2 linked regions of the Homo sapiens genome follow. The protein of the gene in region 1 purifies or fractionates together with the protein of each later gene. This does not show direct contact. Each region holds a gene or a part of one and is shown in the gene's direction. Other genes may lie near its edges. The genes, in order: ELMOD1 and PBLD.

Region 1 (4,033 bases):
ATGTTCGTGTCTGAGAACTTTAGATGTTACCTTTGAGAAAGGCTTTTATTAATAATTACAGGAACTGTAGCTGAAGGGAATTTCAGAGCACACTTGCGTAGGTCTATCTCTTGGAAGGATTTTGGATACTAGCTATCTAGGGGCTCATCACAAAACCTCCATTTTTGCCTGGTCTCTATAGCGTTCTTTAGCAGCCGCTTCAGTTCATTAGCTGCCTTTTGCCTATTCAGCTACCAAAGGTTGATTTACTTATATAGTAAAGGTCTTTTTGAAACCTTCTAACATATATTTTATTCCTCTGGGAAGGTGATAAGAAGGCAGTTCATTATAAATAAGATTGAACGAAAAATTTAAGACTACAACTGGCAAGAGGGATATATGAGTCCTGTAATCATGTTTAGAGACTGGATTAGATTTAATAGCAAATCTTTTCTATGAAAGTTATATAAGGTGCATTCAAGAGCATTTCTTTGCCATCCATTCTCTTGTTCTCATTTTTTTAAAAGACCCTTTTAGGTTCAGGTTGAGGATCCCTAATCTGAAAATCCAAAATCTGAAACTTTTGGGCATTGACATCATGCCACAAATGGAAGATTCCATAGCTGACTTCATGTGACAGATTGCATCTATTATTAAAAATGTTGTATAAAATTACCTTCAGGCTATGTGTATAAGTTGTATATGAAACACAAATGAATTTCATGTTTAGACTTGTGTCCCATCCCCAAGGTATCTCATTATGTATATGCAACTATTCCAAAATCTGAAACACTTCTGGTCCCAAGCATGTCAGATAAGGGTTACTCAACCTGTAGTATTTTTTTTAAATCTCCATGTGGATTCTAGTGCCTTTTTTACAGAGCGACATTGATAAGCTCTGATATAAAAAAATTAAGTACTTTTCTGAGAAAACAAAGAAATAGCTTAGAGATGGGGGAAACACTTTATAACTTACCAAACTGTTACTACTATTAACCTCACTTGTTTTAATTACATTTTTTAAGTGCTGCTTATGGTGGCACTAAAAATTACGACAGAGAAAATTTATTTATTTATTTTAATCTTTTTTTTGAGACAAGAGTCTTGCTCTGTCACCCAGGCTGGAGTGCAATGGCGCAGTCTAGGCTCACTGCAACCTCCACCTCCCGGGTTCAAGCGATTCTCCTGCCTCAGCCTCCCAAGTAGCTGGGACTACAGGCACGTGCCACCACATCTGGCTAATTTTTGTATTTTTAGTAAAGATGGGGTTTTACCGTGTTGGCCAGGCTGGTCTCAAACCCCTGACCTCGTGATCTGCCCGCCTCTGCCTCCCAAAGTGCTGAGATTACAGGCGTAAGACACCGCACCCGGCCAGAGAAAATTTAATTGACTTTCCTTATTTCTGCCTCTTATATTCCGTCCATTCTCCTCTTTCCCTCAAAATTAACGCTATTCTCCATACTACATGGACTTTCTAGGTGGCTAGTGCTATGGTGCCCTTTCCTAAATTTTAATATCTGGCCTAGTTGTTTGGTGCTATGGTAACAAGTAATGATGAAAGTCATTCACTGAATATGACTTTATTAAAGTTCAGTATTCCTAGGCTGTCTGACTGTCCTGTACGTTTGGAGCAGGTACACAGTTCTAAGTTCTGTTGCCCTCAACTTGAGATTTAACATCTGTGCATGTCATTTACCCCTAAAAAAAAATATGATGATGTACAGTGATTATAATGACCACCACCACACCACCTCAAACATGCTCAAAGTCCATGAGTGAACAAGACAAAAGACTAGATTGGAGAGTATCATATGCAATTGCCAATGTTCAGCCATTTTTGAGCCACAGAAAATACATGACTCTAAAGAATTTAGGAGGAAAAAATAAACGTGAAGTGCTACTTTTAGACCTTTAGATTCTACATTACTTTAGAGGCTGTAGAAAGGGAAAACAGCATTCCAGTCACAGAAAGTAATGATCCTCTGTGTGTTACAGTTGCCAGATTGTTTTCTGTTCTAGTGATATGCTTTTAGGGTACTGTTATTCAAATAGTGTACATTCGGAGAGGACTGAGAACGATCATAAAACATCTGAAAACCGGCTGGGCGCAGTGGCTCATGCCTGTAATCCCAGCACTTTGGGAGGCAGAGGGAGGCAGATCACCTGAGGTCAGGAGTTCGAGACCAGCCTGGCCACACATGGCAAAACTCCATCTCTATTAAAAAATATAAAAATTAACTAGATGTAGTGCTGGGCACCTGTAATCTCAGCTATTCGGGAGGCTAGGGCAGGAGAATCACTAGAAATCAGGAGGCGGAGGTTGCAGTGAGCCAAGATTGTACCACTGCACTCCAGCCTGGGTAACAGAGCAAGACTCTGTCTCAAAACATAAAAAATAAAAATAAAATAAAACATCTGAAATAAGATGTCCCATGAGAGGGAAATGAAGAAATAAGATTTCTCTTTTCCCTAGAGATTAGAAGACTCGCTATCTTAAATAGTCATGGCACTGGAAAGGTGGAAATAAATTTGCTCAGAGAACGGAATTGGAACCACTTTGTAATAAGCAAAGCAGATTTTGTTTCAGCATAAGAAAAAGTGTTCAGACAACTACAGCGGTCAGAATGTAATAGAACATCTTGTAAAGTTGTAACTACCCTCTTAGCACTGTCTCCCCTGAGGAGGACACTCCTAAGTGGAGGTGGTGTTGTTATTGTTATTTTGTTTCACTTCATTTTGTTTTGATTTTTTTCCTTGAAGCCCTTAAGGGCTTTTTCTGTTGTCCTCATCCTCATTCTCTTCCACACATCTTTCTAAGGTAATTCTGATATGACCACCTGGGGGGTGCTATATAATCCCTAAGAGCCCAGTATTACCTATAATTTCAAGTAACCTGCATAAAGAAATCCCTTGTGGGTTTTGGTTTTGTTTTGTTTTGGTAGAGATAGGATCTTGCTTTGTTGCCCAGGCTGGTTTTGTACTCCTGGCTTCAAGCAATCCTCCCATCTTGGCCTCAGAAATCCCTTATTTTTAAGTCATACCATTGCCATTTAGCTTTAGAAAAAGTCAGACTTCGAGGCAAATTTTAGCCAGGTTCTACAGTTGTCCATGTGGAGATTTAATAAGAATTGTGCTTCTATTAAATAGATCATCTTTGAGCAATTTCCTGAATATTATATTAATATGAAAAGTTCTATCATGCATACATCAAGTGAACAAATGCCAAAGTGAATGCCCTGTTCTTCCTTGTGTGTCTCTTCTGTTTTTGAACACCCTAGGCTGGGAATCTCTCTTCAGGCTTGCCTTCTGCAAATCGTTGGGTACAGGAACCTTATTGCAGATGTGGAAAAACTGCGTAGAGAGGCCTATGATTCTGATAATCCCCAACATGAAGAAATGCTTTTGAAGGTTAGTGCTTGAACACATTTCGGTTCTTCCTCTAAGTCAGCTGACATTTGCCAGGCACCTGCTATGTGCTAGGCGCTGCTCTGGACATCAGGGGTACAAAGATGGATCAGACACGGGCACCTAACTGGTTGGTAAGGTCAAGTTTTCTCGCTGGTTCAGGTGTTGGAAGTAAATTTTTCATCAGAAAATTCCTGTGAGAAGTTAAGTTCAAAGCCAATTTTCTTTTGTAATCTGAGAAAACGTCAGAGGTGATTTCTGTGGGCTCTCACATTTGGCTTAAGTTTAGTTTGTTTAACAAGTGTTGAAAGCCAACAGGAGAAATAGCATTTGTCAAAGAGTGACTTGGGATTCCCATTTACGACTTTTAATACACATCAGAGAAGATAAAGTTGGTTTCTGCTTCAGCAATGGCCCTCTTGGGAAATTACCCAAGATCTTAATGCTGATTATTTATGCATGTAACTTAGTATTAGAAGAGGTAAAGGTTTATATTTGGCACACTAGAACTTCTGGAGAAATAATGTGGAGTTATGAATACTCCTGGCTGTCAAAGCAAAACCTTAAAAATCTTACAGGATCTGATGGTATATTAAGAAACATCAGTAAAACTTTCCCTCAAAACACTTGAGTTTGGGGCTAAAGAAAT
Region 2 (2,885 bases), on another chromosome or scaffold:
CTGGATGATGACCAAGGTTCCTTACTGCTATTGCTAGTCACAGGATTGAATCAAACAAATTACTTTGGAACCAAGTCCCCTAGTGATTAATGTATTGCTTAGAGGCAGAGAAAAATGATGGCAGCCAATGGAGGCTGCACTGCCCTGATCATCCAAGGAGGAGTCTGTGACCCTGATTTGGAGAGAGCAAGGTGGCTATTCATTTTCCTTGGCGAGTCTAATTATTCTCCTAAGTACTGAGCTCCTGGAAGGCTGAGGCTATGCCTCTTTTGTCTGCCTGGAACACGTGGTTGCTTGAATATGTTATGAGTGAATGAACTCCCTCTGTCCTATTCAGAGCTGAGAAGATGGGGGCCTTCTCAAGAGGGCTGAGACCACCCTTCTTCATCTTCCTAGAGTTATAGGCCTGCCTCTATTGTTTCAAACATCTTTGCTTACTCCTAGAGAGAGCAGGGGAAGAAGCGATGAGTGGGGTGTGTCTGGGCCATTACAGGAATTAGTGAAGGAGATGGCCCAGGAAAAGGCTCAGGAAGGGAGTATGTGGAGCTGTGTGTTCTGTAGATCAAATTGAGTTTGTGGCTTTCTCAGTCTGCAGGAGAATGGGGATGGGAGTGGGCAGTACCATAAACAGACGAAGGAATTTATTCTTGAAACTGATCTGGGAGGACTCTAAGATTTGTAATAAGTCTTTCACTATGCTTTGTTAATTTAAAAGGGTGAAAATACTCTTAATTTGACCTGTTTGTTTTCTTTAGCTTTTCAGTGTTCCCACCGAGGAGGAGAGCTGGGAATTTCCCTTCGTCCAGACGGAAGGGTTGACATTAGAGGAGGTGCAGCTGTTGTTTTAGAGGGCACACTGACAGCCTAGAGGTGGTTATGCTGTGACGCTGCTGTCTCTAACCACCAAGTATTTTCTGCTTAAAAAGAAATGTAAGGGGCTGCCTTTAGCAAATGTGCGTAGTAGTCTACTTAATCCTCATGTTAAAAATCGAAAAATGGGCCAGGCGCAGTGGCTCATGCCTGTAATCGTAGCACTTTGAGAGGCCAAGGTGGGTGGATCACCTGAGGTCAGGGGTTCGACACCAGCCTGGCCAACATGGTGAAACCTCGTCTCTACTACAAATACAAAAATTAGCTGGGTGTGGTGCCACATGCCTGTAATTCCAGCTACTTGGGAGGCTGAGGCATGGAGAATCGCTTGAACCCAGGAGGCAGAAGTTGCAGTGAGCAGAGATCACACCACTGCACTCCAGCCTGGGCAACAGAGTAAGACTCCATCCACACACACACACACACACACAAAATTGAAAAGTGAAGACATTTTAATGGAGATTTAATAGTGCTTCCAGACTAATGAACTAATGGAGTTTTGGCTCCACTCATGAGTGTATTTGAAATGTAAGTAACCAGCTACAAAGAATAATGTCACTTCATTTGATTATGACTACCAATCAAGAGAAGGAGGAATACATTTCTGAGGAGTGATACTAAACCATTTGAGCTTAAATGAGTACCTGATTTTGCAGCCATTAAAATGAGTCAATAACTATGTGGAAATATAGAAAAATATTTTATAATATAATACTAAGAAAGAGGACAGTAGGCCATAAAGTGTTAGCAGTGTTATGCTATGTCTATATAAATAAGCATGGGCCATTAAAAATAGCAAACTGAAAACAGTTCATGTGTGGGGGGCAAGTTTAGAAGTAATTTTAATGTATCTAAGAAGTGATTTCCTTTATTGTTGTACTCAGGTACGAAGACTAAAAATCAGGATGAATCCAGAAAATTAACACAAAAAAGTATGTATTAGGCTACTTCCTGTCATAGTGAAATTAAACACTCAAAGTAATGTAATCTCAGCTGGGCGTGGCGGCTCATGCCTGTAATCCCAGCACTTTGGCAGGACAAGGCAGGAGGATCACTTGAACCTAGGAGTTCGAGACCAGCCTGGGCAACACAGCGAGAACTTGTCTCTATTAAAAAAAAAAAAAGGAATGTAATTTCAATCTTTTTCTTGATATATGGCTTGAGAATGATAATGTAAAAGGAATTCTTCTCTTACTTCAATAAAATGGGTTTTAACATAACTTTAAATTCAGTTAAATATACAATATTGAATACCTATAGTTGACTTTGGGATGGGGACTTTTTCAAGTCATTAAGAGTGTTTGTTTAAGGTGATCTCATTGATGGTAGTTCTCAGCCGTCTCAAAAACTGCAAGCTAATCAGTCAGACATTCTTTAATGACCCCAATTTTTTCACTTTAATTGTTACCATGTTTTCTATTTTTACTGATTTTTGCTAAAGCATGTAAGAGTGAATTTATTATAGCAGTAATCTTGTGTTTCTCCTGATGTGCAATAAATCAATAATTCACCAGCTTTAATGCCTTAACTTACTGAGTAACCAGTGCCCCACCGCCCCCCAGAAGACCTCACAACTCATCACAACACACCCACGGGTCATGATACCAAGGGCGAGAATCACCAGAGGGTTTTCCCCCAATTTTGGATTTTCCAAACCTGAGACTGAACTATATGAATAAGTTTATATAAATGTACAGTTGAGAGGGCCTGAATTTGATCAGATCTGAATCTGATCTTTCAAATGTATGCTAAATTCTTTTTTTTTTTTGAGACAGAGTCTTGCTCTGTCGCCCAGGCTGGTGCCATCTTGGCTCACTGCAACCTCCGCCTTCCAGGTTCAAATGATTCTCATGACACAGCCTCCAAAGTAGCTGGGATTACAGGTGCTCACCACCATGCCTGGCTAATTTTTGTATTTTTAGTAGAGATGGGATTTCACCATGTTGGCCAGGCTGGTCTCAAACTCCTGGCCTCAAGTGATCCACCTGTTGTGGCCTCCCAAAGTGCTAGGACTA

What was found.
Region 2: the proteins of ELMOD1 (region 1) and PBLD purify together in Homo sapiens (affinity purification with mass spectrometry; one large-scale study listed by BioGRID and IntAct). This does not show direct contact.

The regions. Positions count from the first base shown.
Region 1 is NC_000011.10:107,632,379-107,636,411, forward strand, and holds part of ELMOD1 (ELMO domain-containing protein 1), read left to right. Parts: intron 1-3,257; coding exon 3,258-3,387; intron 3,388-4,033. UniProt on the Homo sapiens protein: Acts as a GTPase-activating protein (GAP) toward guanine nucleotide exchange factors like ARL2, ARL3, ARF1 and ARF6, but not for GTPases outside the Arf family.
Region 2 is NC_000010.11:68,282,160-68,285,044, reverse strand, and holds the end of PBLD (phenazine biosynthesis-like domain-containing protein), read left to right. Parts: intron 1-755; coding exon 756-868; 3' UTR 869-2,385; downstream 2,386-2,885.